7 linked regions of the Homo sapiens genome follow. The protein of the gene in region 7 purifies or fractionates together with the protein of the main gene of each other region. This does not show direct contact. Each region holds a gene or a part of one and is shown on either strand. Other genes may lie near its edges. The genes, in order: ADK, SSU72, NUP210, DSTN, ETFA, PEPD and KYNU.

Region 1 (4,262 bases), on a different chromosome or scaffold from region 7:
AGACCATTACTTAGAAAATTAACACAGTTACCAAGAGATAAATTCACAAAAAATCTGATGGAAATATGGGTAATTTCAAAACAATTGTAAGTATTTTAAAGATCCTTAAAAAAGATAAAAGAAATAATGGTCATAAAAAAACATGAATCAAAAATAGGTAGATATGAAATAGATGGCTATATTAAAGAAAAAATGGAATTATTGAAATTAAAAAAAAAATAGGTCAGTTGAACTCTAGACCAGACAAATTTGAAGGGAAAATTAATGAATTGGAAGAAAGTACCCAGATGTATCACAGAGAAATAAATAGGAATTAACAAATATGAGCTGGGCGTGATGGCTCATGCCGGTAATTCCAGTACTTTGGGAGGCCAAGGCGGGCAGATCACCTGAGGTTGGGAATTTGAGACCAGCCTGACCAACATGGAGAAACTCCATCTTTACTAAAAAAAAAAAAAAAAAAATACAAAATTAGCTGGATGTGGTGGTCCATGCCTATAATCCCAGCTACTCAGGAGGCTGAGGCAGGAGAATCTCTTGAACCCGGGAAGTGGAGGTTGGGGTGAGCCGAGATCGTGCCATTGCACTCCAGCCTGGGCAACAGCGCAACTCCATAAATTGAGAGGCACCAACTTACATCTAACTGGGAGTTCCAAAAAGAGGAAATAATGTGAATGGTGGAGAAGCCAGGTTGGAAGAGCTGATGGCTGAGAATTTACCAAAATTTAAGAAAGACCAGTTCTCAGCTTGAAAGGGCATTATATGTATCTAGTAAGATGGAAACAAAAATATAAACTAAAACTTCAGAGATTTTCTTGCTAATTATATTAATGTATCTATTATAGAAAGACTGAAAATTTAGACACTCCAAATTTAATAGTGGGCATCTTTAGGTGGAAGAATTATGAGGTTTAAAAAAAAACTTGTATTTTCCAATGTTTCTACACTGAACATATTAGGAATCTTGCTTTTAAGTTGGAGAGACTTGAAGTACACTGAATATATAAGTGGCCAAGTGCTGTGTGGCTAAATATTATCTTTACAGAATGGACCTCTGGGATACCAAATACCTCTGAAACTTGGTAACATAATTATTATGACTTTATTGTAGGCTATAATCTTTTAAGCTATATTTCTGAAATCCCAAAGCTCTGGAAGCTGGAAGTTTTTTAAAAAGTTTGAGATGAATTAATTTGGCAGCAAAATTTGAACTGATGTAAAGGTGTCAGTAGTATTTATTTGTCTGACACAAATGTATATGCTTTGCTATGGAAATATTAGGCTGTTAATGACATGCCACATGAATTCCTCCTGGGTGTTCTACAAAATATATAGTGCAGTGTTACCTTCCTAAAATCCATAAAATTCTGAATTCCAAAACATACCCTGCCCCAAGGATTTAAGAAAGGGTTTGTGGACTTTTATTACTTATTTATAGTTTACTTTTAAAAGTTGGCTACTGTGCAGGAACAATAATTTCTCATCAGAGTTAGTTCCTAGATTTTTTTCTCTAGTCACTGTTCTGCACTTCTATGATACTAAGTAGATGCTCATTTCAAAGATACTTTTTGGCTAGCTCTACTGTAATACCAGTACAGTTGATGTCACTGAGTTATTAGGCTTTTCTTCCTCTCCAGTAGTAACTGAAAAGACAGACTTCTCTTCAACTTTTGGACTTGAAGATTTGGAAGGCTGTTTTACAAAATGGTCTCCCAAACTGAAGTTTCACATACTGCTTGAAGAAGATACATTCTGATGATTTATCAAAGCAGATTTAGAGTTTTTGCTCTCATTTATGTGTATTATTTCTGATGTTGTTTGTACTTTTGGCTTCGTACCATTTCTTTAAAAATTTGGTTCATACACTTCAGATCTAGAAGCAATGTGATTAGCCTTTGATATAAGAACATCTGAGTTTCTATTTGCATTTTTACTTTCATTGCATGCATGCTGACTTTAGTATTTTCTTTACAATTTAGAAGATATATATGTATAGCAATTATGTAAGAAATTCTTGCCTTCTGTAGGCACAACAGTTTGGTTACTGTATTAACATGGTCTTAACCATTTTGTCAGCAAGCCACATTTGGTTAGTAGTGAGTCCTGCTATTTTACTATGTTACCTGCAAACAGGATTGCAGATGTGAAGGTAGCCTGTGTGATCATTGGTCACTCACTGAATTAGGGATTATCAGAAATTATATTGAAGTGGTCACTTGGCTACTTGCCTTCTACATGCTTAGGCTAGACTTTGGTTCATACTTAGAACCATTTTGAAATCTCTGAAAGACTCAGTTGACTCAACCTAACTGGAAAGTCCATCTAATTTTTTTTTTTTTGAGATGGAGTCTTGATCTGTCACCCAGGCTGGAGTGCGGTGGCACGATCTCAGCTCACTGCAACCTCCGCCTCCTGGGTTCAAGCAACTCTCCTGCCTCAGCCTCCCGAGCAGCTGGGATTACAGGCATGCACCACCATGCCCAGCTACTTTTTGTATTTTTAGTAGAGACAGGGTTTCACAATGTTGGCCAGGCTGGTCTCAAATGCCTGACCTCAGGTGATCCACCTGCCTTGGCCTCCCAACGTGCTGGGATTACAGGTGTGAGCCACAGCACCTGGCCTAAAGTCCATCTAAATATGACTCAATCTAGGAGTTCACCGCTTGTCTCTGTTGTCCTTTAGATTCAATTTATCTCTCACGTAGGCCATTTCAGTGTAACAAGATGGCAGTTCTCAACTCCAAGCCAAAATCTCATGAGTCCAAAGGAAGAGAGTTTTTCTATATGCTTGTATCAGTTTTGAGAGAAATTTGGTTCTGCCTGTGTTACACACTACCTTGAACCAGTTGAGGTAGGAGGTGGGGCTCAGACACTGGACCAAATTGAGGACTAGCTAAAACAGGGACAGAGTGGAATCAGCTTTCCGTAAGTCACACCTACTAATGTGCCATGTCAGTTTCCCATTGCCACGGCAACACCCAGAAGTTAGCGTCCCTTTTCATGACAGTGTCCTGGAAGTTACCACCCTTTTCCTAGAAATTTCTGCATAATCTGCCTCTTAATTTGTATATAATTAAAATTGGGTATAAATATGACCACAGAACTGCTTCTGAGCTGCTACTCTGGGCATACTGCCTATGGGGTAGCCCTGCTCTGCAAGGGGCAGTACCTCTGCCGATGCTTTACACTGCTGCTTCAATAAAAGTTGCTGACACACCACTGGCTGACCCTTGAATTTTTTCCTGGATGAAGCCAAGCACCGTCCTGGGCTAAGCCCCAGTTCTGGGGCTTACCTGCCCTGCATTACAATCACTGTATCAGAGGTGGAGATTTGGGCTGGCCTTGGATACATTCTCACTGTCTGCCCGTCTGTTGTGTGCGTGCATGCAGGTAGGGGTGTGTGCGTGCATGCAGGTAGGGGTGTGTGTGTGTGTGTGTGTGTGTGTGTATGTGTGTGTGTAGGTAGTACTAGGTATATGGGGAGCCAGTGAGTGTAGGCATTGTTCGTATATGGGGGGAAATGGATGGGTGTTGATGGGTACACTGTAATCAACAACTCCGACAGGACCTTGTAGAGTAAGGGAGGTAGTGTCATTCCCTCAGCAAGAGAAAAATCCATTTTAGCATGTACAATATTTATTAAAACAACCTTCCTCTTCTCCCCTTCCAAAAAACCCGACAACCTCAGTCTTCAAGGTCTAGCCAAATTCTCTCTTCTCTATAAAACTTTTCTACTCACCAAACCTAGAAATGGTTTCTCCTTTGACTGTTTGTACTTTATACTTTGCGTTATTGCAATGTACAGTATGTGCATGTTTTATCTCACCTATTGCTACTTGAAGTTGGGAAACTAGTTGAATAACTCTTAGTGCCTCATAACTGATCACTTCATTGCAATATAACAGGCTCTGAATTTCTGTTGAATCAAGGAATTCCTATTTATTTTTTTGAGATGAAGTCTCGCTCTGCTGCCCAGACTGGAGTTCAGTGGCATGATCTCGGCTCACTGCAACATTCACCTCTCAGGTTCAAGCAATTCTCCTGCCTCAGCCTCCCGAGTAGCTGGGACTACAAGTGCACACCACCACACCTGGCTAAATTTGTGTATGTGTGTGTTTTTAGTACAGACGGGGTTTCACTGTGTTAGCCAGTATGGTCTCGATCTCCTGATCTCGTGATCTACCTGCCTCAACCTCCCAAAGTGCTGGGATTACAGGCATGAGTCACCGCGCCTGGCCTATTTATTTTAAAATTTTAATTAAT
Region 2 (4,262 bases), on a different chromosome or scaffold from region 7:
TTGTGATGGTCAGTTCTGGTTTGATTGCTTTTGTGTAACTTGCTACAGCCTGTCGCCCAGGCTGGAGTGCAGTGGTGCTATCTCTGCTCACTGCAAGCTCCGCCTCCCGGGTTCACGCCATTCTCCTGCCTCAGCCTCCCGAGTAGCTGGGACTACAGGTGCCCGCCACCGCGCCCGGCTAATTTTTTGTATTTTTAGTAGAGACGGGTTTTCACCGTGTTAGCCAGGATGGTCTTGATCTCCTGCCTTCATGATCCGCCTGCCTTCATGATCCGCCTGCCTTCATGATCCGCCTGCCTTGGCCTCCCAAAGTGCTGGGATTACAGGCGCGAGCCACCATGCCCGGCCTAGATTAAAAATTTGAAGACATATTCTCTACTATGAGCCAATGAAATTACTCATTTTGTTTCTATCCCATTTGCTGTCCCTTGCTTTTGGAATTTTGTGTCTTAGTGTGACTGTGATTCTTTCTCTCCTTTTGTCTTTCAGCAAACGGGGATTCAGCGTCCGATCCTTTGGAACAGGGACTCACGTGAAGCTTCCAGGACCAGCTCCCGACAAGCCCAATGTTTATGATTTCAAAACCACATATGACCAGATGTACAATGATCTTCTTAGGAAAGACAAAGAACTGTATCCCAGCGGGTTGCCCTTTAAAAACCCCCCGTGTGGTCCTCCCTGGAAGGTGTTACGTGTGGCTCGGGCACAGGAGGCGTGTCACCCTGTGCAGTGCACACACTGGCTCCTCTGTCTTTGCGAGAGCTTGGTTTCTATTCCTGGTGCACGTCGGATCGTCCACGGGTTAGTTCCAGTGCCACCCATGGCAGTAGGCGTGGTGAGGCGCACAGACACGGTGTGGGGTTCACCCTGACGTGGTTCAGCAGAGGGTCGTGACATAGCGTAGACCAGGGATGCTTAGGTGAGGAGGTGGAACCCACAAAATCCCATTGCTTTTCACACTGCAGGGCTGCCCCGTTATTTCCTTTGCAGGTTGGTGTGCGTGCGTGTGTGCGTGCGTGCCTGATACACATGGAGCCGGGCTGCTTCACACATCTGGTGAGGTCGTTAGAAGGTCAGATAAAGAAGAGGGCGGAGCTTGCTAACCAAGCTGTTAGAAGAAATAATGGGAGAGAACATTCCTTCATTTCAGGAGGACACAGAGCAGGCTAGGTCTGCCGCGAAGACTCCTATAGAGAGAAGAGTATTCTTAAACTAGATTCTGATGGACGCAACACCAGTTGCATAATGGTTATGACAATCAGTGCCCGGGTTTTTGACCAGGCATTTCATGGTCACCCCCACGCTAATGGAAAGTTTCTGGATCTTATTTTGTTATAGTGAGTGATTTGTAGTTTTCAGAACGGAGGCCAGGCCAAACGTATTCCAAATGAAAAGAGAATAGGTGTCAAATGCTAAACCTTTTATCTTCGTGTTGGCACTGTTGCCATCCCCGCCCTCTCCCGACATCCCCGCCCTTGACCAGCATCTCTGGCCTTGCCCAGCATTGTCTATGTATTGGCACTCTTGCCATCCCCGCCCTTTCCCAGCAGAGTCTCACTGTGTCACCCCGGCTGGAGTGCAGTGGCGAGATCTTGGCTCACTGCAGACTCACTGCAACATCCACCTCCCGGGTTCCAGTGATTCTCCTGCTTCAGCCTCCTGGGTAGCTGGGATTACAGGCACGCGCCACCACACCTGGCTAATTTTTGTATTTTTAGTAGTCACAGGGTTTCACCATGTTGGCCAGGCTGGTCTTAAACTCCTGACTTCAGGTGATCCACCCTCCTCGTCCTCCCAAAGTGCTGGGATTACAGGCGTGAGCCACCATGCTCAGCCCTACTCTTGTATTTTTTTTTTTTTTTTTTTTTGAGATGGAGTCAGAGTCTCACCCTGTTGCCCAAGGTGGAGTGTAGCGGCTTGATCTCAGCTCACTGCAACCTCCCCCTCCCAAGTTCAAGCGATTCTCTGCCTCAGCCTCCCGAATAGCTGGGATTACAGGCATCCGCTGTCATGCCTGGCTAATTTTTGTATTTTTAGTAGAGACGGGGGTTTCACCATCTTGACCAAACTGGTCTTGAACTCTTGACCTCGTGATCCAGCTGCCTCGGCCTCTCAGAGTGTTGGGATTACAGGCGTGAGCCACCATGCCTGGCCTCTTGGAATATTTAATAAGCTAAAAAATTCTTATACACAGGTAGATTAATTAGGTAGCCAGGAGTGGCCCCTGAAAGTATGTCTGGCAAAACCTAGAACTGCATCCTAGCCATCACTGTACCTTCTGCCCTCCCTGCTGTCTCCTCTGCCAGTTACAGTTAAAAGGTTGTGGGTGAGGACGCTGGGCAGAGTCCCAGGCGTCTGCTGTCAGCTCCCCAGCCCGGCCTGCCTGCCGAGCCATCTGGGCGTCCCACGGTGGAGAGTGTGGTGCTTGTGACGCGGTGGTGCTGGGAGCCATCCTGGTGGCAGATGTGGGCTCTCACTGCAAGTCAGTGTAAGTCCCCAGGGACTGTCAGCAGCACGTCCTGCTGCCCCTCTCTCTGCAGAAGCCCTGGTAACCTGCGTTTGGAAAAATCTCTAAGGATTTCTGAGGAGCTGTCAGGCCATGTCCTTGTCCACCCTGTGTGGGGCACGGCTTCGACATGGCTCTGCTCCCGTCGTGGGCTGAGAAGGAGCAGGTGGGGCTGTGCCTTGGAAAGGAGGCCCTCCCGACATGCCTTTGTGCGAGGTCCCTGTCCATGCTGTCTCCATCCCGGAGCCTTACGGCGATGGGTGGCCACAGAGCCTATTCCAAGAGTCTGGTTTAGGGCTGGGTCTTCCCATCTTCACCTCTGAGTCTTAGGCGATGCGTGACCACGCAGCCCCTTCCAGGAGTCTGGTTTAGGGCTGGGTCTTCCCATCTTCACCTCTGAGTCTTAGGCGGTGCATGACCACGCAGCCCCTTCCCGGAGTCTGGTTTAGGGCTGCGTGCTCAAGAGTCTGGTTTGGGGCTGGGTCTTCCCATCGCCCTGGAGGAGGCTTTTGTCTCATCTCATGATTCACATTAAACTCTGTGCCATGAAGCTTAGCCTGACATCCTGTTTTTGACAATTACTCTTCAGTTAGCACTGTTTATTTTTAAGTTCTTGTATATTCAGTAAGAGAAAGAAAAGCAGAGAGTGACGCACATCCTCACACTCCCTTGATTGGTGTAAGCTCAGCCCCTTCATGTCAGCCCACTGTGACCTCCTGGGTTCCAGACCTGGGAAGTACTTGCCACGTTCTGCAAGGACTGAGTCCAGCTTCAGCAGTCTCATCCGGAAGGACTTGGTATAGGCAGAGGATGAGCCTGTCTCTGGTCATTCTAAAAGAAGGAGCTGAGCCCAGTGTCCCAGAATTCGGAAGCTCCTCCTTTACAGAGGGACTGTAGGGGTTGGTGATCTCCCAGGAAGCATCGGCCCAGAAGAACCCCGCGTGCGTGTGTGTGCTCTTGGTGTGTGGTGGGGGGAAGGAGTGGCAGCAGGGGTGGCGCTGGGACACTGTCAGCCACGGGCTCTGCTTTGGGGACCTCGTGTGGGAAAGGCATTGCCTGTGGTGGCCCCTCAGGAGGCTCTAGGAGGAGCGTGCCTTCATTACCTTATTTCACTCGGGGGGCGTCTTTGCCCCCTAGGTGGGGGCAGAAGGTGCAGAATGGGAAGCCTGCCACTTAGCTAAAGCTCTTGCACATGATGCCCTTGGCCTGGAGAGGAGTGAAGTCCCCAGGCAGTTCCCTGTGGACACTGGCACGATGCCGGGTGGGGCCTCAGGGGTGTTGAGATGTGCAGGTCGGGAGGACCCCGATAACGTTTCCTGGTTAGTGATGGGTGCAGGGGGGCCGCGGGAAGTGACTGTTACAAGTGAGAGCCCGAAAGCAAATCTGCCCCACAGCAGCCGGTGCGTTGGCAGAAGTCATCGCCGTAAACTGCAGTGGAAGCAAGACGGGGTTCAAGATGCGGCCCAAAGATAAGACGCAGCACTTGGTCGAGTGTTCACAGCGTCAAGACAAAGGACGGGCCGGCGCGGTGACTCAGGCCTGTAATCCCAGCACTTTGGGAGGCCGAGGTGGGTGGATCATGAGGTCAGAAGTTAGAGACCAGCCTGGCCAACATAGTGAAACCCCATTTCTACTAAAAATACAAAAATTAGCCGGGCATGGTGGTGCACGCCTGTAGTCCCAGCTACTTGGGAGGCTGAGGCAGGAGAGTTGCTTGAACCTGGGAGGCAGAGCCTGCAGTGAGCCGAGATCGCGC
Region 3 (3,797 bases), on a different chromosome or scaffold from region 7:
AAAACAAACGAAAAACAAAAACAAAACAAAACAAAACAAAAAAACATTTCCAGGATGCAGGAATGCACATGTAAGCATGCACAAAGACACACAGAGAAACAGAGAACGAGAGTTCACTTTTGGCCAGACTTAAGAATTCTAGAGAAAAAACAATCTATATGATGTACTATATTTTTAGTGCTAAATGGTGCTAAAAGCCTTTTCTGGCAACCATTAGAGACAGAGAGTTGCTTGGTTAGCTTGGGAGCAGAAAGCTGAACTGTGTGGCATCACCTGGTTTTGTCAATGTGCCTTCTTGGGCACACTCACTTGCTGGCAAGATCTGGCTGCGTCCAGATGCACTTGCATTTGCCAACCTGAATGTGCTTGAAAATGATGCTCACCCTTTGGGGAGAATAAAGCTCAGACCTCCAGCTCTGCCAGGCCCCAGAGTATCATAGATGGGTAAAGGGAAGAAATCATCACCATCAGACAGAAATCTCAGCAACGATCACACCCTCTTAAAAAATCACATAGAACTTTATTAAATAAACCAGTAGAAAGGCTCCTATTTACATCCAGGTTGTCAGTTTAAGCTCAAGTAATATGCAAGGCACAATTCTTCCTTTCTCCAGCTTTAGAAAAATCAACCACATGGCCCAGCCCTGAAGGACTGAAGGGAGCTTGTGCGGGATCCCGTCATCCTGGACTCTCCACACAGCGTCCACGCATGGATGGCCATGGGCATGAGTCTCTGGATCTCCCTGAGGGTAGCCCAGCCTCGGCCTGGAGCACAGGGGCCTGTGATCTGAGAATCTCAGATCCAGAATCAGGAGCTGGGAAGAGAGGACTTTTCCAAGGGTCTCCTCCCCCAGGCCCTGGGGAGTCCCTTCTGGATGGGCAGGCCCTGGGCTGGCGGCCGCCCTCCATCATTGGCCCAGGCCGGGCTCTAGGGCCTGCTGGGAAGCTGTCTGGGGCCCTGCGCCTGATGAGCTGCCATGAAAGTGGCCGCCTCTCACACTGGCAGGCGGTGGCTCAGATCTGCTGAGGTTCTGGAGTGGCACAGGAACAGGAGGAGCAAATGACACTGGGTCTTTGTGCTGAGGCAGGACACAGCGGCTTTCCGAAACACACACACAGAAAATATGACTCCTGCTGCCATCTCAAGGACATTTTCCTAAGGACAGTCCTGGTGTCCTGATGGAGTGAAAGGGATCACACGTGGGATGTCCCAGCAGGGCCTAAGCCAAGTCCATCAGATGTCTCAACGGCTTATGAAACAAAAACAGAGGACTGAAGTCTGTTCACAGTGGCCCATGGTTGGGCAGCAGCCCTGGGTGAGCTCCTGTGTTCTCCAGCCTCTCGCTCACCCAGGGCTTGGCTATCCTGGCCTCCAGGTGCTGGTTCCTGAGGCTTCCCTTGCGGCAGTGGCGCAGATACAGGGACACTCATGTCCCATTGCTCCTCAGAAGTCCTAGCAGCAGCCAGACTAGGGGCAAAGTAAGTTTTCACAGGGGGAAAAACCCCACCAAAAACCCCCTAAAGTAACTGGACAATCCTTTCCCTGAGACCACTACAGTAACATCACCCACAGACAACTTCTAAAGAGCACTTCTAACTGCTCAAAGTCTTGAGAAGGGAAAGATTTTAGCAAGGCTAGGAAAATAAAAATGCAACAGCACATTGTCCAGAAACCCTAGACAACCATGCAAAAAGGAATGAGCCAAAAAGTCTTAGCTTTGTAAGACTTGAAAGGAAAAAAACACACATTTAAAACTCCTACATAAAATGAGCTAATGGGCAGAGCCGAAACTACAGCTCTGTGTGAAGAGACGGCAGTGAAGCTGGCCTGGGGCCGGGGCACTCATCTGGAGGGGCTTGTTCCAGTGTGAATGCAGCAGGGATGTTCCATCTTGGGGGTGCACGAGGCTCGGCTGAGACCCATCCTCCGGGAACCTTCACGCGGCCTAGTGGGAGGCATAGGCTGGGCTCCACAGCCCTGAGGGAGGGCTGGCTTTGCGAGCAGGAGGCAATGCATTGGGAGATGTGGGTGATGAGGCAGCGAAATCTAGGGTGGGAAGAGAGACGATGTTAGCAGCAGAGCCAGGGAAAGCGGCGCACTCTTCAGTTACAGCCAGCATTCAGCAGGCGCCTGCCTCACCCAGGACACTCTCACAGTGATGCCCCGAGGCCTCCCCGGCCAGCAGAGGGAAGTCCACGGGCACCTGCTGAGCTGGCCTCATTCACACAGAGAGGCCTGGGATGCCACCCTAACACCCAGGAGCGCAGAGCCTTCCGGGGAGAACGTGTCTCAAGTTTCAGGACCACAGCAGCATCTGTCCAGGGGGCATGAGGCAGGGAGGCCCCGTGCATCTGAATGCAATGCAGCCTCGGGCAAGAGCGCCACAGGAACAAAGACCCCGAGGGGAGCAGCGATTCTGCAGTGCTCCGGAGACCTTGCAGAGATCCAGGTGTGGCTCCCAAAACCCAGGGAGGAGCACGCTGAGAGAGGCAGCTAGAAAGGGCAGGCACCTGCTGCCAGAGCAGCTGCAGAAGGCAGCAGAGCCGCGAGGAGGCCGAGCACCCGTGGCCTCCCCTGGGTGCCGCTTTGCAGGTAGAGAAGTCGTCAGGCAGAAGACAAGGGCGTGTGGGCTCTCCTTACCCAGGAAAGTGCTTCTACCCACACAACTGGGTCTTCTTTCAAAAAAATTCAGGGACCCCCCTGAAGCCGGTCCATGGGCCCCCATGTCAGCAGACACGAGCTCGAGGACTCTTTGTGTAGGGGAGAGAACCCTCAAATGGGAATCAGGAGACATTAAAGGGCCTTCACGTACAGCAGTACAGGCTGGGCACTGCATTGTTTGAGAGAGAAACTACATTCACACAGTGAGGTGCTCCCTGGAGCTGTGCAGGGTCACCAGGGCTTCGGGGTCACCAGAGAGACAGTTAGACCATTGAAATAAATGACTTTGCCCATTCTTCTGGGAAATTTCTCATCAGAACTACCCAGAATCCCCATCTGTGAGTCAGCTCGTCCAACCCCAGCTTAGAGCCTTCTGAGGCAGCCTCAGCAATTGGGCATCCAGTCCTAGCATGCACTCCTGCCTAGACAGAGCTCCTTGCTGCCCATACCTCCACCCAGCATGGCTCTACCTGGGGAAAGCTCTTGCTGAACCAGGACTGGCAGCCCCTCTGCCCCGACCCTCCTGGCTCCCACATCTGTCCTCTGGGCCTCAGGCTCCTTTGGCCCAGGCAAGGGCCTGTTGAGACTTAGGGTTCAGGAGCCTCGACCCCTCCCCCAGGGCTCTTCTCTTTCTCAGCAGCTCTGCCTGGTTGTGCCTGCAGGGGGGCTACTCACAGTGGGGGCTGTGTCCAGGGCTGGCTCGAGGCGTGAGGGCTGCAGGCACAGCAAGATCCCGGGGCGTGCAGACAGTGTGGTAGGCTGCAAGAGCACAGGGTTGGTTAGAGCAGGTCGGGGCAGGGGAACAGACCCAGAGATACAGGCAGCCTCCTCACCTATGATCATGACCGCTGTCCCAGCCAACAGGGCGAAGAGCGTGAAGAACATGACCTGGTAGGAATCCAGGAAGTGCTGGAAGAGGCTGGCTCCATCTGCCATCAATGGGAAGATGAGTTACCAAAACCACCAGGCCCACTGTGGCATCCCATCACGTTCCTGCCCTACTGTACGTCTACAGGGCAGTCCACAGGTCCCTCTTAGATGTAAGGATGGTGGTCTCAGAGGGCCAGGCCACCTGCTGGAGGCCCGGGCCCACAGCTGTTCTTGGTACCCTGGCACTTCTTCTCCTGGCGCAGGC
Region 4 (4,262 bases), on a different chromosome or scaffold from region 7:
GATACATGCTACAAGGATGAACCTTGACAAACACTGTGCTAAGTGAAAGAAGCCAGACAGAAAAGGGCACCTATTGCATGATTCTATTTATATGCAATGTTCAAATTGGGTAAAATCAACAGACAGTAGGTAGATTAGTGGTTTCCAGAGGTTGAGAAAAAAGGGGAATGGGGAGTGACTGCTAATGAGTATGGGTTCCTTTCTGAAGTAATGAAAATGTTCTGGAAGTTGACAGGAGTGATGCATACACAACTGTGAATATACTGAAAAACCACTGAATTGAACTGTACTTTGTGGTATGTGAATTATACCTCAATAAAGTTATTACAACAAATACCATGTGTTCGCACTTAGGAACTAAATAATGTGTACACCTGGACACAGTGTGAAATAAAAGACAATGGAGAGCCAGGGGAGGATGAGGAATTAATTAATGGGTAGAATGTATGTTATTCGGGTGATGGATACCCTAAAAGATCTGGCTTCACTGCTACCATCCATGCATGTAGCAAAATTACACTTGTACCCCCATACATTTATACAAACAAATAAAAATAAAGTTGTCACTTTAAAACACATGCAAGAATCCTGGGAGAAAGATACACTAAGATCCTAGCATTTACTTAATATTAAGGTAACTGGGCTATTTCATCATCTCATTCATTAAAGATCTCTAAATAACACACTCCAATGCCATCTACTCCACATTTTCTGTTCATAAATGAACATTCACTCTAATAAAGTGGCAGAAACAGAAAATTAGGACTAGAAAACTCATAAGTACACAATATTACCACATTCCTAATTTTAAAAAGCACTTTTCTTAAACCTTTTACTGCTTTAGGAGTAGCATATTTCTGATCTTTACAACGTATCTTATGTTAAGCAAGTTAAGAATCTCCATTTTGCAACAGATGAATAAAATGTTCAAAGCAACAAAAATTGAAGAACTAGAAACAGATCCCAATCCCTCTAACTCCCTAGTCCATAATGTTGAAGTCACATTTGACCCAACAAGCAATTTCTAAAAGCAGGAAGGCAACATCTAAAGCCTTATATTCAATCAACCAATCTTTAAATACATCAATCAATATCTAAGCATCTCAAACATTCTAAATTCTGATTTGTAAATTAAATCAATGATGTACTAGTAATCAAAAACAAAGTAAATGTGCATTCTGCAATTATAAAACAGATAAATCTCAGCCAAATCTGGCTGTAACTTACAAGCTCCTTAAAAGCCTCAGTAAGGAAGAATTTTGTCTTTTTTTCTATCAGAAGTGATGTCTGTGGAGGTTTCTTATACCATTAGACACTTGTGCTTGAGGAAATTAACACTGAATACTTGAAGGAGAAACTGGCACAGAAACTGGAAGCAGAAAACCAATTTTGACACAATTACAAATATTCAGAGAAGAAAGCTCTGAACTACAGCAGTGAGGTTAAAAACAGAAAAATTCAAGGACATGTCAAAGTCAAACCAATATAGCTGAATGAGACACAAAAGAGTGGTATCAGAGAAGCCCCAGGATTCTCTCGATTAGTGACTAGACTGCAATATATGAACAGAAAAGGAAATATGGCACAGTACGACACATCCACTCTGAAGACTGTGCAAGACATCTAGGTGGAGATGACCAGACAGTGGCAGAAATATGAGCACGGATCTCGTTGGAAGGCTTCACCTAATCCATATTTTGGACTAGCCCACACCATGGGGTCACCAACATTAAGCAGCAAAAGAAAAACCAATCTAGTTTCTCACCACTGAGTACGTAAAAATTAAAAAGAGAAACCCATCAAGGACACTAAAAAGAGGTAATCAGAAAACTAAGAAGAAAAAGAAGGAAGAAAGCAGCATCTTAGAAGCAAGGGAGAATATTTTGAGGAGGAAAGTCATCAACAGCCAATTCTGCAGTATTTCAGAGAATGAAAACAGATCGCTGGGCTTGGCAATTGGGCCTCTGAACATTTCAACAGATGGGAGAAATGGGACAGAAGTCAACCATAATGGACTGGGGACCCATGGGGAATTGAAGAGGTAAAGACAGAAAACATAAGATGGTTAACAATGAAGAAAAAAGGGAAGATTGAATGGTACTTCATGCAAGTTGTCTTATGATTGGGGAGATGTAACTGTTCTAGATATTTAAGAACTTGAAGGAATAAAGAGGAAGAGCCAAAACATTAAAAAAAAATTAAAACATACACTGAGTACTTACTATTGCTAGACACTTCTAAATCACAACAATTCTATGAGACAGCTACTATCACTATTTGCATCTTAAAGATGCATAGCAAAATTAAATAATTTGCCCAGGGTCACAGAGTAAACAATAGAGGAATTGGGATTTGAACTCTGGCAATTTGGCTCCAGAGGAGATTTTTTTTTTTTTTCCAGATGGACGTTCGCTCTTGTCATCCAGGCTGGAGTGCAATGGCACCATCTCGGCTCACTGCAACCTCTGCCTCCTGGGTTCAAGCAATTCCAGAGGAGATAATCTTAATCACTCATAAAATTAACAATATCAGAGATCTAAAGAAATGGGTAAGATCCACAGCACAGATGGGAGAGTTAGCCTAAGAAAAAGATACACATTTTTTTCTCTGAAACAGGGAGGAAGGGAAAATGACAGTTTTGAGGTGGAAGGAAGATACACTGCCAAAAATTGTGTCTGAAAGATTCTATTTTCTCTGTGAAGTATAAGGCAGGAGGAGTAGGATGGGTTTGAGGGCACTCCTCCAATCTACTACTACTAACAATTCAGAACAGCTATGACGGGGAGTTCCAAAAGGAACTACCTAAGGACAAGAAAAAGGGCTCTGGGGACCTCCAAAAGGTCAGCTGAGGTCAAGGGGTGAGGGTGGTAGGACAATGCAGTGGAAAGCAGAGGCTGATGGCAGTGTGGAAGGAAAGGACGAACTCTGCATTCTTCCTCAGAGAGTTTACCCAAGCTCAAGCTTTCAATCATCTAAGCCAAAACTTAGTTCAGACTTCTGCTCTTCTGAGCTTCTAGTCTTTACATTCAACTTCCTATCTCACATCTCCAGTTGTGTGTCTCAAAGGCATGTGATGCACAACATGTCTAAAATAAAAAACAAGCTGGTCCATTTCTAACCAGTCTTCCTTTCTCAGTAGCTATCACCACCCTCCTAGTCACATAAGGCTCCAAGCCTAAGAGATGTTCTTAGCAACTCCTCCATTATCTTACTCTTTGGATTTTCATCTTTCTCTGATACATTCATCTCATTTCACCCTCAGTCCAAGCTTCCATTGCCTCTTACTTGGACTGCAGTAACTCCTCAAGTGGCTGCAGAGGAGGGAGATTAGGATATGTATACATCATACTGTTTTCTCTTCTTGGCTGAACAGGAAAGACTGCATTCCCCAGCCTTCCTGGCAAGCTGAGTTGGCTGTATGACTGAGTTCTGAACAGCCATTTGAGTTCTGAACAGCCAAGCTGGGCCCAGTTATGTAAACTACTTCCAGTCCTGGCCCTTTAAAAGTGATCTTTAAATACACTAAATACAGCTTTTTAGATGTGAATCCTACCACAATAAAATGATTTTTAAAACATCAAAAATTAAATAAAAGTTAAATAAAAGTGATCTTAAAGCTCTGTTTTCTCCCACCAAGATGACCTTGGTAAGCATACTTCATGATAGGAGAAGGCTGCCCAACCCTTCTGGACTCTGCGTGACAGAGACAAATCTTTACTGTGTTAAGTCACTGAGATTTTGAATTTAATTTGTTATTGCAGTTCTAATACAACAAGACTGCCCATACCAACTGCCCATCACCTTTACCCTCCAATTCATCCTCTACATAAACATGAATCTGATCACCATACTTAGAACAGTCCAGTGGCTTTCCATTGATCTGAAGGTAAAAAATAGCTATTTATTTATTTATTTATTTATTTATTTATTTATTTTTGAGATACGGTGTCACTTCGTCACCCAGGCTGGACTGCAGTGGCATGATCATAGCAAACTGCAGCCTCGCACTCCTGGGCTCAAGTGATCCTCCCACCTCAGCTTCCTGAGTACTGGGACTATAAGCACGTGCCACCATGCCCAGCTAATTTTTAAAATTTTTTTTGTAGAGACAAGGTCCCACTATGTTGTCCAAGCTGGTCTCAAACTTCTGGCCTCAAGCTATTGTCCTGCCTTGGCCTCCCAAAGTGCTGAGACTACAGGTATGAGCCACCACCCCCAGCCCAATAATGGGCTCCATTTGGCTATACCTACCTCTTTAGCCT
Region 5 (4,262 bases), on a different chromosome or scaffold from region 7:
AGTAAGACTCTATTTCAAAAAAAAAAAAAAAAAATTGGGGGAAAAAATACAGCAATGATAAATGATTTTAGACAAAACTAAAAAATGAAGTGATGTTTTTATCTAAAGAAAATCCTCGGCCAGGAGCGGTGGCTCACACCTGTAATCCCAGCACTTTGGGAGGCCGAGGCGGGCAGATCACAAGGTCAGGAGAGCGAGACCATCCTGGCTAACATGGTGAAACCCCGTCTCTACTAAAAATACAAAAATTAGCCGGGCGTGGTGGCGGGCACCTGTAGTCCCAGCTACTTGGGAGGCTGAGGCAGATGAATGGCGTGAACCCAGGCAGCAGAGGCTGCAGTGAGTCGAGATGGCGCCACTGCACTCCAGCCTGGGCAACAGTGAGACTCTGTCTCAAAAAAAAAAAAGAAAGAAAGAAAGAAAGAAAATCCTCCGCTCTATTACTTTATCACTCAGTAACAATAGTTTAAGGCACCTCAGTGTGCAAACATAATTTCACAGATATCCTTTCAGTGTTTTCCAGTCCTCTAACAAGATTAAACCTCTCCCAAACACCCTCTATGTTCTGTAACAATGACCACACTTAAAATAATGTGTTTCTTCCTTAATCTGTTTGCATCACAAGGGCAGGGACTAGGTCTGTCTTGTTCTCCACTGTGAACTTGGTATCTACCTCTCTGGCACACAGTTGGCACTCAATGAATAGTAACTAAATGAAAACTTTTCTTAAAATTATCAAAAACTAAAAAGCAACTGTTTCCTCATTGATAATGTAATCAACTAAACATGTATAAGGGTAACTAAACAGTACATAAACTGTTACATCACTAAAACAGACACACCATCATGCTTTTAGAGAAGTTCTCTATACTCTGTTTAGACTTGGTTGCAAATAGCAAAATATGAAGTTTTCTTTCTCATGCCAGCCACATACCCATATAAAGTTGACTGGCCTTTATAAGATAGTATACTTCTTGTGGGCAGGATTTAAAGAGGTTATCACCCTCTCTGCACCCTTTCAAAGCTAAATTTCTTGAAAATAATTTCCACAGACACCAACTCTTATTACCTCACCTTCCATTTTTTCAGTTACTCATGCAAACTGGCTTTCACCTTCACAACACTGAATCCAATCTTTCCAAAGTCACCAAAAACTTCATTATGGCTAAGTCCAATGAACACATTTTGGTCCTTCTCTTTTTCAACCTCAATAGTTGTTTTTTTTTTTTTCTTGTGGGGGTGGGTATTTGTTTGAGACTGGGTCTTGCTTGCTATGTTGCTCAGGCTGGTCTCCTGGACTCAAGTGATCCTCCTGCCTCAGCCACATGAGTAGCTGTGACTACAGGCACATGACACTGTGCCCAGCATCAGCCTCATTTTTGACATTGTTTTTGCTTGTCAGTTTTTTAGAGTTCTTGCTGTGACTTGAACTGTATATTCACATAGTAAAGTACCACAGATGGTAGAAGAAGAAAAAAAGCTGGAATCTAACTCTCTACCCTTACAAACCCACTCATAACCTAAAGTAGTAAGAATGATTGTAACCTATACCTCCACCCCAACCATCTTTGGAAACTAGGTGTAATGAGGGTATAGAGGGCAGGGGAGGGTTTTTTTGCTTCTTTTTTTTTTTTTTTTTGAGACAGAGTCTCGCTCAGTCGCCCAGACTGCAGTGCAGTGGCGCGATCTCAGCTCACTCCAACCTCCGCCTCCTGGGTTCAAGCAATTCTCCTGCCTCAGCCTCCTAAGTAGCTGGGATTACAGGCACGCACCACCACACCCAGCTAATTTTTGTATTTTTAGTAGAGACGGGTTTCACCATGTTGGTCAGGCTAATCTCAAACTCCTGACCTCGTGATCCACCCACCTCAGCCTCCCAAAGTGCTGGGATTACAGACATGAGCCACTGCACCCAGCCGGTTTTTTTGCTTCTTAATTAAAAAAAGAAAAACAGCAAGAATAAGCTATAAAATCTTTCTGAGTCATACCCAAAAGGATAATATATAAAGTCACCTATCCCTATTTTAACATACATTTTGTAATTTTTAAAATGTATATTTCTGTACTTTAAATACTTCCTTTAATCCTTTTAGTAATAAAATATAGCAGCTTTTAATCATGACCAGAAATGTTATATGACATTGACTGTAATACTAAAAACACAGTCAATTTACTTCACTTTAAGAAAGGACAAGACTCTTAGTAGACACATTGGCAGGCATCATAATTTTACTGAATTCACCTTATGCAATAAATTTTCTTTTAGAATCACACCAAAATTGGCTCTCTTTCTTCTTTCAATAGAAATTAAAATTTGCATGCAAATTACAGAGTTCAATCTTATTCATCAATACTAGACAGAAAAGTGTCATGTTCCTTCACACCAGTTTCATAGCTTCTCAGTCCTGATAGATATTCCTTCCCACCTGACAATAAACACAGTAAAAAGAGTACTCAAATGACCTTGAAATTGTTGTTTCACTCACCACATAAATATTTTTCTGCATCTTCTTATTCTTCAATAAATCAATTTCAAGAGCAAATTAATAAATAACAATAATTAGGATTAATATCCCTGCAAGAATATTAACTAACTGCAAATGCCTACCTATTTGCCTCTTGGTGTGTTCTCTAGCTCTTTATTATAGATATAAAAACTATCTTTGTTAACAGATGACTTTAAAGACCATTGCCACACACATAAGGATGAAAGACTTTACTCAATGGCACAAATCAGTCAGAACTAAAAATGGAACTTAGATACCAAATGCAAGTCATTGAACTTATATCCTAATAGTTTAACAAAGTGGTTTAAAAGAATACATAAAATTTACCATCTTAACCTTTTTTTTTTTTTTTGAAACAGCGTCTCACTCTGTTGCCCAGGCCGGAGGGCAGTGGTGCTACCTGGGCTCAATGCAGCCTCAAATGCCCAGGTTCAAGCAAGTCTCGTGCCTCAGCCTCCCAAGTAGCTGGGACTACAGGTGTGAACCATGGCGCCTGGCTAATTTTTTTTTTGGTAGAGATGGGGTTTCGCCATGTTGCGCAGGCTGGTCTCGAACTCCTGAGCTCAGGTGATCCATCTGCCTCAGCCTCCCAAAGTGCTGGGATTACAGGTGTCAGCCACCATGGTTGGCCCCATCTTAACCATTTTTAAGTGTTAAGTGTTAACTATATGCACATCGTTAACAGTTTATGGTAATCTTTTAACTGTAATTCCTAACTTTATTTTTTTAAATATGGTTTTGGAAATGTATCCTCTTCCTAAATGCATTAATGGTTAGCTACAGAACATTTTTTTTTTAATTTCAAGAGTGGGGACTTGAGATAAGCTATTTTGACTTTGTGATATCACAAACATATATATGTAAACAAACAGGAGTCAGATTGAATGGGCCCCACTTTACAAACATGAGACAACTTCAGCATAAGGTAGAAATGTATTATCCTAAATAAGGATCCATGTATCCATAAATCCATAAATATGCAAGAAGATAATGTTCTTCCTTATAGTAGAATAACTAAAAAATGTACGAAGGTATCATGGAAATAGAAAATCACCATTTTGCATCATAGTAATCATTTCTCAGGCAAAAATCATCAACAGATGCTAAGACTGGGTAAAAGTCTGATGAGAAATAGGACAGTCACATAGTCTCAATGAATCGCCTCACAAATTAGTTAAAAATTACAAAAGGAGGAGTATTAACTTGACAGTGGAGAAACCTGGCAAACAACACTTTGGCTAAGTAACTAAAGTCAGCATTACCACTAATGGGATAAACCAACATTAAGTACCTGCTAATATGATGCACGGGGAACACAATACCACTTTTGTGATATTCCCACCAAGAATACATGACCTGAATCTAATCATGAGGAAACACCAGACAAACCCAAATTGAGTGACAGTCTGGAAAATAGAAGGCCTGTACTCTTCAAATACACCAATGTCATCAAACCCAAAGGAAGGCTGAGGAACCTTTCTAACAGAGTAAAGAGACATGAAAACCACTTGCAGGACATCTAGAGTATCTTAGACCAGAATAAGGAAAATTGCTATAAACTGTACTAATGGGACAACTGGCAAAATTGAACATCCATAGATTAGAAAACAGTATTTTATGGTGAAACTTCCAGATATTGCCAATTACAGTGTAGTTAGAAAGTGAACCTCTTTGTTCTTTTAAAATATCACTCAATTATTTAGGAGTAAAGGGCACATTTGCAACATACTTTCAAATGGTTCAGAAAGATAGTAT
Region 6 (4,788 bases), on a different chromosome or scaffold from region 7:
CCTACGGCTCAACAGGGGTACACGTCCAGGGCAGTTCACCTTTGCCTCTTTTTGGCTCTGCAACAGCTCCTGGGAGCCACTCAGTTAAAGAATTAAGGCTATTTCTTCATCCTACCCCTCGGAATTCTGTCCCCATTCCCCACCATGACTCCTTCCCTCAATCACTGGGAGTCTCCCAGGAAAGCAGGATGGGATGCTGGACTAATTTAGAGTAAATCCCCTTTTCATTCATTTCACCAAGCACCAATCACAGGGCAGCCACAGACTGGCCCTGCGGATACAAAAGAACCCCAGGGGTTCTAAGGATGCTAGGAGAGGCATGAAGGGAAGCAACTCCTAACCCACAATGGGCAGACGTGTAAAAGTGTACTGCTGGGGAGAAAACTGAGTGTTCTGGAGTTCTGAGCACTAAACCTTTACCCGAGGGCTGGGAAAGGCTTCTGGGAAAGGGAACCATCTGAGCTGGGCCTGCAAATACGTGAAGAATCATATAGAGGACAAGAACATTCCAGGGCTAGTTGGGTGAGTGTGCAAGGGAAGAAGGGAATGGAAAAAGCCATGTGGGAGAGCAGATGCAGACAGGTCTGGCTGGAGCTGACAGATTTCAAATTATCAATCCTGTCTGTGGAAAGCTCAAAGCATTGCTTAAGGAGACAGCAGCAGTGCCACCAAGTGCCATGGGATAGGGACCCCTCTCCATGAGGGGATGGGAGGTGACCTCAGCGCACTCTGTCTCAACCTGAAGCCTACACCCAGGCTAGCAAGAGAAAGTAGGATCAACCCTGAAACACCCCACATCTTAAAAAGAGAGATGCATTCAGAGTAGATTCTTGAGTTTCAAATTAAATCTGAGATGCTAGTTTAGGGCTTCCCCTACTCCCCAAATCATATGGGGCACACCCCAGTCACCTGGAACTCTCATGGACCCCCTCTGTCCCAGGCTCTGGTAGGATTCTACAGACAACCAAACCCAACTCCCAGTGAGCCCACGGCAATGGCCGTGACTTGCTGGCATCATGCCTCGTTATGCCTGACTCTATGATCTGTTCTGTGAGTGTGGCTAGGAGCTGAGCTTTGCGGGAAACACACTTAATCATTCTGCTCTAAAGGAAGCCACTGGGGTCAACCTCAGGCTCAAAGTACATGGGAAAGCCCCATACCAGACTGGGATGGCTCTTCCCAAGGAGACTGCCAGGCTCTGGAAGCTCCCACACCCTCTCAATAGCAGACCTCTCTAAGACCTGCCACTCTGTTTTGCCTCCCTCACCCACCCTGTGTGGTGGCCCAGAGAATCGGTTCTGCTAGAAAAGCTCTCATTCTGGGGCCAGGCGTGGTGGCTCACACCTGTAATCCTAGCACTTTGGGAGGCGGAGGCGGGTGGATCACCTGAGGTCAGGAGTTCGAGACCAGTCTGGCCAACATGGTGAAACCCCATCTCCACTAAAAATACAAAAAATTAGCTGAGTGTGGTGGCACACGCCTGTAATTCCAGCTACTCAGGAGGCTGAGGCAGAAGACTCGCTTGAACCTGGGAGGTGGAGGTTGCAGTGAGCCATCATGCCATTGCACTCCAGACTGGGCAACAAGAGCAAAACTACGTCTCAAAAAAAAAAAAAGAAAGAGAAAAAGAAAAGCTCTCATTCCAGGATCCAGTCAGTTCCAGACTTGCTCCCGTCCAGACATCAGCTTGGTTCCTTCAGGAGAGCAGCAGGTCTCAGGCCAGCTTGGAATCCTGAACCCAAATGCAACCCCTGGCACTCCCTGTGAGCACCGAGCCAGCCTAACCAGAGAGACAGCACACCCACAGCTGGGCACCAGCCTGCTCAGTCTACCCTTTAAAAGGGTCACAGGCTGGATTCAAGGATCTGACCCTGAGTTCCTTGACACCCATCTGAGACTTTGTCTGCACTGTTCTCTACCTGAAGGGAGTCTCATTGCTGAAGGACTAGCACAAAAGTCACCCAGGAAGTGAAGCCTTCCCACACTTTATCTGAGCTCAGAGTCCATGCCCCTCCTTTGCAAATGGCAAGACCACACGGCAAGCAGATGGATGACAGAGTCCCATGTGTCCATCTGTTCCAGTGGCCTGTGAGTACCTTAAGGGAAGACCCACTGCTATTCCTGGAATATAGCAGGTGCCCACAAAATATTTGATTTGTATGCTCTAAGCTCCCTCAACCTTGGGGGCCAACTTAGAACCCACTTTCTGTTGCCATTTTCCCTGTATCTTAAAAAGAGAGATGCATTCAGTCCACTAGATCCCCCATTCTGACCTCAGTTTCCAACCTGGCATCTGGAATACTGCTCCCTCCTACACCATGCCCCCTCTACCCCACTGTACCACCAGACCCACACCTTCTCCCATTGAACTCACACATAGCTCAGGGGAGCCTAATCTTTAAAAAACAGATCAAGCAGCTTGTAACAAAACCCTTCCAGCCCATCAGGGCAAAGTCTGAAGCCGCCACCTGGAACACCACACCTTCCAACCAGCCCCAGGCATGCACCCCTGTCCCCAGAACACTCTGAACTCTCAACCTTTGTCCCTTACCCTGGGCTCAGATGCTCCCTATCTGGGAGATTCCGCCCAACGCTCTGGTGAACCCATCTGTCCACCCTTCCTCCCACTACGACCACTCAGCTTTCTTTCATTTAGCCCAGTATGGAGCACCTACTGTGTGCAAGGCACCGGGCTACTGAGAAGCAGGTAACATACCTGCCCTTGCACTCTAAATGCAGAGAAGATAAAGAACAAGTACAAACAATGCTCTATATAGTTTATCAGGTGATGATGAGGGCACAAAAAGTGGGATAGATGGTTAGAGAAGGATTCCCTGAGGGGGTGACATTTGGCCCCTGAAAGAAATGGGGAAGTGCCCTGCTGGGAAAAGGGAATTCCAAGTCCGTCTCGAATACCGCCTCCTCCGGGAAGCGCCCGGGTCCCTGGGGTCCTCGCAACGCCGCCCTCCTACCCGGGGGTCTTGGCAGCGAACATGCGTGTCGACCCCAGCCCCCACCGCAGCCGCACACGGTGGGGCCGCCAGACGCGGGCAGGTGGGGCCGGAGCCAGCCAGGAGGGTGGAGAGGAGCTGCGGCCCCCGCGCTGACCCTGACTCGGAGCGTGCAGCTCGCCGACCGGCGCTGGGACTCCGGGCCAACGGGAAGAGGCGCCTACCCGCGGCATTCAGCGACCCCGGCTGACGCTCTCACCCGCGGTCCGGCCGGGACACCCATGCCCCTCTCCACGCCAGCGGGAAAGAGCGAGGGAGGCGCAGCACTCACCCGGTGGCCGCCGCCATGTTCGCCCGGCACCGGCGTCACGTGAAGTGCGGCGTCAGCTGAGCCCCTCCGGGTGCCAATGCATGGGGCGGGGTAAGGGCGGGGCAGGGGGCGGGGCATGGAGTCCTTGACCCACCTCCTCCAGAGCCAAATTCCACGGGACGGGAAGGGGCGGTACCTGGGGAAGGGCGGAGCCCCGATGGGGCGGGGCTCCCGGAGATTGGGGGCCCAAGAGCTCGGCCAGGATAAATGAGCGGGCTGCCGGCTGCAGACAGTAGGTCGGGTTAGCGGGCAGCATCTGCAGCCTTTTCGTGGTGGGAGGGAGGTCCTGAAGCAGAGGACATCTTGATTCTGGTTCAGTCCCCGATCTGGCGTACCAGCCCACCCGGGAGAAGAACACATAGGAATAAAGAAACCACGTGGGAGGAGAGGAGGGAGACTGACCCAGGCTAGGGTCGGGGCAGAGGTGGCGATTTTTGTTTAAGAAGGGAAAGGGCTTGAGCAAAGGCCGTGGGGCAACTGGAGGACTCTAAATGTGCAGCGTCCAGGAGAATGTGCGCGAGAGAGGGGCAGCCTAAGGGAAGCAAGGGCCAGACCCTGCGGGGCCTCCACTGTGGGGCCTATGAGTTAAGTCTGGTAGGATCTTTTCTAGGTTTCCTGGGCTGCAGAATGGAGAAGCTGGAGGAAGGGAAGCCAGGGAGGAGGGCAGGCGAGAAGTGGGCACAGCCGAGAAGGGTTTAGGAGGGAGAGTCTGCCAGAAGGCTTACTCCTCTGCCCCACTGGGCACTGGTACTGGGTGCAGAGTCCTGCAGAGAAGGTGTAGGGACCCTGCAGCAGACGCTGCCCTCCCTACTGCCAACAGAGTCAGGGCATTACAAGCACGGCCCAAATGCGTTGCACATGTGAGCTCATAGAAACCTCACCACAGCCCTATGAGGTCGAGACTATCTTTAAGTCTATTATACAGATGAGGAAACTGAGGCCAGAGAGTGCTCACACAGAGGCTGAGCTCATGAAGCCATACCCTGAGGAGTGACCTCACTGCCCCTGTGAAGGAAGGGGGCCCCACACTGTTGGGGGAGGGCGTCCCTGGCGCCAAGGGTGTACAGATGTGTGTGGTGTACAGATGTGTGTGGACAGGTGGATGGGTGGCCCAGGATAGGCGTGTGGGGCTCCTGACCCCACCCTGCAGCTGTCCCACAGCTGGAAGTGGCTTCTGATCAAAGGTTGTGGGTTGGGGGATGCTTCTTGTTTCTTTATCGAAACAAGGATGTGGGTCACCATGGCCAGGCTGGTGGGAGCCAGGGGCTATGACTGGAGAAGCAGCTTCTGTTTGTCCCCATGAAGCAGGGAGGAGAATAGGCCCCTTAAATAGGAGCAAGGGAGCCAGCCATAAGCAGGGTAGTGAAGGGCACGTGGCACAGTTACCTGGAAGCCCAGTACCATCCCTGCTGTCCTCATCTGTCAGGAGAGAGCTAATGGGGCCACCTCACAGGGCTGCTAGAGGGT
Region 7 (4,262 bases):
CTTTAGATACTCAGCATTAAGTGAAAACTCATTTATAGAGTGATTTATAGTATGACAAAGTATGAGTTGAATTTTTAATAGACCTAGCATGTACTTCCTATCTTAAGTATTTTGTCTGCTTCCTGGTGACTGACCAGCTGAGTACCAATGGCATCACCTACAGCTTGCCTGGCCTGCTGACTAGAGGCAAATGCACAGAGCAGCTGCTACTAAGGAGGTGAGACCACAGAAGTGGCAAAAAAAAAAAAAAAAAAAAAAAAGCAGTTTAAATAGAGATGCCTGAAGCAAAAAAGATTACAGATTTTCTTTTAAAAATGTAAGATTTACTCGCTTTTTTTTTTTTGAGATGGAGTCTTGCTCTGTTGCCCAGGCTGGAGTGCAGGGGCACGATCTTGGCTCACTGCAATCTCCACCGCCCGAGTTCAAGTGACTCTTCTGCCTCAGCCTCCCGAATAGCTGGGATTACAGGTGCCCACCACCATGCCCAGCTAATTTTTGTATTTTCAGTAGAGATGGGGTTTCGCCATTTTTGTCAGGCTGGTCTCAAACTCCTGACCTCGTGATCCCCCTGCTCCAGCCTCCCAAGTGCTGGGATTACAGGCGTGAGCCACCGTGCCTGGCCCAAGGTTTACTCTTTTTTTTTTTAACTTTTGAAATAGTTTTACTCAGACACAAGCTAAAGTACTTCACAAGTCATGCAATTAGAACACTCTTAAGTAGAGTGATGTTTGGAGTAAGGTGGGAAGAAGTAAATGGCGTGCATACCTTCGCTTGTCCAGCTTTTGTGATGGCAGGAATATTAAAGTGCTGTCCAGTGTAAAAATGCACCCCACTGAACAGGATCACTGCAATTGAGTCTCCTTCCTTCTCAATTACTTCAAGGATATCCTCTATTCTTAAGGTTTCTTCCCCCTAAATCAAGTTAGGCACAAGTTAGGTCATATCGATAATAATAAATTTGTAATTTCATATTGCCGATCTAAATTTCACCGTGAGCCCTTTTGCATTATAAAATAGTTTTTTTTTTCAGATTAAGGTTCTTTAAAAATCTGGCATAAGAGCAGCATTTGAGCATAATTTTTATTATTAAGAAATGATAATTAAAAAGTAAAAAGTGTTTTTTCAAGTGAAAGTCTTCAAAAGCCGAATTGCTTGATTTATTCTCCAGTTTTTAAAAATTAATTTGTACTCTTTCCACAGCTATAAGTTGTTTTCTCCTTATTCCTGACTAATAAAACACCACAAAGTGCAAGAAGTCCATGAAGTATTATATAGCAAGATAAATTATCAGAAATTGGTATTGCATTTATCAATCTGATATCCTGTTATTGTTTCCAAAAAAAGAAAACATGCCGGGTGTGTGGCTCACGCCTGTAATCCTGGCACTTTGGGATGCCAAGGTGGGCAGATCACTTGAGGTAAGGAGTTTGAGACCAGCTTGGCCAACATGGTGAAACTCAGTCTTTATTAAAAATACAAAAATTAGCTAGGTGTGGTGGTGCATGCCCGTAATCCCAGCTACTTGGGTGGCGGAAGCACGAGAATAGTGCCACTGCACTCCAGCCTGGGTGACAGAGCAACTCTGTCTCAGAAAAAAACTAAACTAAATTAAACTAAACCAAAGAAAACATAACACTTACACATCTTTTATCTGAGTTTTACCTAGCCAATATCTTCTATTAGATTAAGATTAAAATCTCCTCCAAACTAATCTAAAGCTCAAGACCCAAACAAGAAGAAAAATATCAATAAAACTGACTATAATAGAGGGTTTTTTCCTTATATCTTGCCACTACAACTAATAATTGATTACTTACTAAAGGTTGTGAATGAATTTAGATTTGGTCTTGCAAACAACTTGAGCTGAAAAAAATTAGTTAAATACAAAGTACCTATGTGTATCCTGTATCCTAGCAATTCTGAAGTTTTCATAATTTTTTTTTTTTTTTGAGACGGAGCTTCACTCTTGTTGCCCAGGCTGGAGTGCAATGGTGCGATCTTGGCTCACCACAACCTCCACCTCCCAGGTTCAAGTGATTCTCCTGCCTCAGCCTCCTGAGTAGCTGGGATTACAGGCATGTGCCACCACATCTGGCTAATTTTGTATTTTTAATAGAGATGGGGTTTCTCCATGTTGGTCAGGCTGGTCTTGAACTCCCGGCCTCACGTGATCTGCCTGTCTCAAACTCTCAAAGTGCTGGGATTACAGGCGTGAGCCACTGCACCCAGCCATGAATTTTCTCCAGTGCTGTCTGACATGATTTTGAGGTCAATGCATCATTAATTACGTTAATATTTGGGGGAAGCTCATTAAGATATTATCCTATAGTTTACTTTTAATTTTTAATTATCTTGGTATTTGCCAATTACTCTGCTCCATGTTAAGAGAGTACGTGTGTGTGTGTGTGAGTGTGTATGTGTGTGGGTGTGAAATAAACTCTCTACTAGAAGAAACCAGGAATTTGTTTACAAAATGGGCATCAATAAAAATTGGCATCCCAATATTAATGGGATTGTTATTAAAATATCTGAATTATTAAGTGAAGTATACTTTATATAAAGAAAAGAATGTCATTAATTGTAAGTAAAATTGATAACTTGGCAATCCAAAACTCTTTATTCTTAAAACAATCTAATAAGGTTTACCCACCATAATTTCCAATAAAGTGGTAAGGAAAATATTATAGATACTAATACTTAATTTATATCTTAAAAAATCAGTATTAAGCACATAAGAAATACATTTTTCAACGACAGGATACGGCCCTCTCTCATGTTGACTTGTTCTAGGTAATGCTCAACAGTGGTCCCAAGATTATGAGTAACTCATGAAACTCCACAATATTGGTCACTTATGTGATTATTAGCAGCTATGTTCATTTTTGCTAGAAATTAACAATTTATATCCTCTCAATTTATATCCTCTCATGTGAGAACTTTTTATTCCATTAATTTATTGTATGTTGGCAAATGGAAGTGAATAGAGTACATCTTTAATTTATTCAAAGTAATTCTGGGTTGAAAGAAGTAATTGTCCAAACAATGACTAGCGGTCTGGGAGCATCTTATGTGAAACCTAAAATTTATTCTGTATGATTCGACTAGTGACAAATTACACAAGCTGCAGGGTTTAAATGTCAAAGTCTGTGAGCCTTTTATCTCTATTAATGTAAAGTACACATTTAGATCTTAGGTCAAGCCTGATTAGACACATGCTTTTGTTATCTGTTTAAATATAAAGGAGTCTCAGAGAATAAAGTAACTTTCCCAAAGTCACATACCCAGTAAACTGGAGAGTCTGAGATTTCACTGGAAATATTAGCCAGACTGTAAAGCCAAAGCTCTTCCCATTATACCACATCCCTTTCTCCACTATCCTAGTCTAAACACAAAGAAAATGTTTGATACTTAGAGTAAGAGGGGACATGAAATATAGTCACGATTCCATTTTAACAAATAATTCTGGTCTTTAGCATGATTTTAATGGCACCCATGGGCATGACATTTGGAATTGAAAATGATATACTAAATTTGTCACCCTTTTCCCATCCCATTGAAGAATATGGCAGAATCCAGTGGTATTAACAGAAAAATAGTTTGCTTGCCATATGGCTAGCCCTTGAAAAATGAAAATAAATACACATCTGAGTTATTCTCTATTTTAAGCAAAATGATCTAATAGTAACAGAAGTATAGGTCCTTCATGCTTTCTTGAAAGTTCCATTAAAGTAATGAAGATTTTAATAAACTTTTGAGGAAAATGAAGAAAAAAATCAATACTAAACAAAGCATGACAAATATTTCTTTCTTTCTCATATACCTCTCTTGGCTTTATCATCCGCATACTTTCTTCAATGTTAAGTCCGTGAAGTTGTAGTTGTGACTCAATAGCATACTAAAAAGGAAAGATGATGTATTTATCAAATCAAGCTGAGAGCACAGAAGTACATTGAAATAACAAATAATAAAGTAAAAATAAGGGCATATTATTATATTAAATCCAAGGTGAAGGTTAAAACACCTAAACAAAATACACAACAGAGAAGAACCACTTAATAAAATTCACATATAGAATTCTGAACATTCTTTGAGATAGATGAAAACAGAGGGATCTCCTTGACTTAAGGAATTATAAGAGATTTTAGAATAAGAAATTAAATCATCTAATCTAAGTCAAAACCAGAATTTGCAAAATAAGCAAAATGAATAGTAGGGACTTGTCATCCTTGAACATAGGATATAGAAATGGCTTACCCTAGGAA

The links.
Region 1: the proteins of KYNU (region 7) and ADK fractionate together in Homo sapiens (co-fractionation; one large-scale study listed by BioGRID). This does not show direct contact.
Region 2: the proteins of KYNU (region 7) and SSU72 fractionate together in Homo sapiens (co-fractionation; one large-scale study listed by BioGRID). This does not show direct contact.
Region 3: the proteins of KYNU (region 7) and NUP210 fractionate together in Homo sapiens (co-fractionation; one large-scale study listed by BioGRID). This does not show direct contact.
Region 4: the proteins of KYNU (region 7) and DSTN fractionate together in Homo sapiens (co-fractionation; one large-scale study listed by BioGRID). This does not show direct contact.
Region 5: the proteins of KYNU (region 7) and ETFA fractionate together in Homo sapiens (co-fractionation; one large-scale study listed by BioGRID). This does not show direct contact.
Region 6: the proteins of KYNU (region 7) and PEPD fractionate together in Homo sapiens (co-fractionation; one large-scale study listed by BioGRID). This does not show direct contact.

What each region holds. Positions count from the first base shown.
Region 1 is NC_000010.11:74,157,272-74,161,533, forward strand, and holds part of ADK (adenosine kinase), read left to right. Parts: intron 1-4,262. UniProt on the Homo sapiens protein: Catalyzes the phosphorylation of the purine nucleoside adenosine at the 5' position in an ATP-dependent manner. Serves as a potential regulator of concentrations of extracellular adenosine and intracellular adenine nucleotides.
Region 2 is NC_000001.11:1,561,144-1,565,405, reverse strand, and holds part of SSU72 (RNA polymerase II subunit A C-terminal domain phosphatase SSU72), read left to right. Parts: intron 1-489; coding exon 490-633; intron 634-4,262. UniProt on the Homo sapiens protein: Protein phosphatase that catalyzes the dephosphorylation of the C-terminal domain of RNA polymerase II. Plays a role in RNA processing and termination. Plays a role in pre-mRNA polyadenylation via its interaction with SYMPK.
Region 3 is NC_000003.12:13,315,735-13,319,531, forward strand, and holds the end of NUP210 (nuclear pore membrane glycoprotein 210 precursor), read right to left. Parts: intron 3,592-3,797; coding exon 3,496-3,591; intron 3,422-3,495; coding exon 3,338-3,421; intron 2,048-3,337; coding exon 1,947-2,047; 3' UTR 501-1,946; downstream 1-500. UniProt on the Homo sapiens protein: Nucleoporin essential for nuclear pore assembly and fusion, nuclear pore spacing, as well as structural integrity.
Region 4 is NC_000020.11:17,593,756-17,598,017, reverse strand, and holds part of DSTN (destrin), read right to left. Parts: intron 1-4,262. UniProt on the Homo sapiens protein: Actin-depolymerizing protein. Severs actin filaments (F-actin) and binds to actin monomers (G-actin). Acts in a pH-independent manner.
Region 5 is NC_000015.10:76,304,646-76,308,907, forward strand, and holds part of ETFA (electron transfer flavoprotein subunit alpha, mitochondrial), read right to left. Parts: intron 1-4,262. UniProt on the Homo sapiens protein: Heterodimeric electron transfer flavoprotein that accepts electrons from several mitochondrial dehydrogenases, including acyl-CoA dehydrogenases, glutaryl-CoA and sarcosine dehydrogenase.
Region 6 is NC_000019.10:33,518,462-33,523,249, forward strand, and holds the start of PEPD (xaa-Pro dipeptidase), read right to left. Parts: upstream 3,331-4,788; 5' UTR 3,300-3,330; coding exon 3,283-3,299; intron 1-3,282. UniProt on the Homo sapiens protein: Dipeptidase that catalyzes the hydrolysis of dipeptides with a prolyl (Xaa-Pro) or hydroxyprolyl residue in the C-terminal position.
Region 7 is NC_000002.12:142,957,274-142,961,535, reverse strand, and holds part of KYNU (kynureninase), read right to left. Parts: intron 3,896-4,262; coding exon 3,821-3,895; intron 913-3,820; coding exon 766-912; intron 1-765. UniProt on the Homo sapiens protein: Catalyzes the cleavage of L-kynurenine (L-Kyn) and L-3-hydroxykynurenine (L-3OHKyn) into anthranilic acid (AA) and 3-hydroxyanthranilic acid (3-OHAA), respectively. Has a preference for the L-3-hydroxy form. Also has cysteine-conjugate-beta-lyase activity.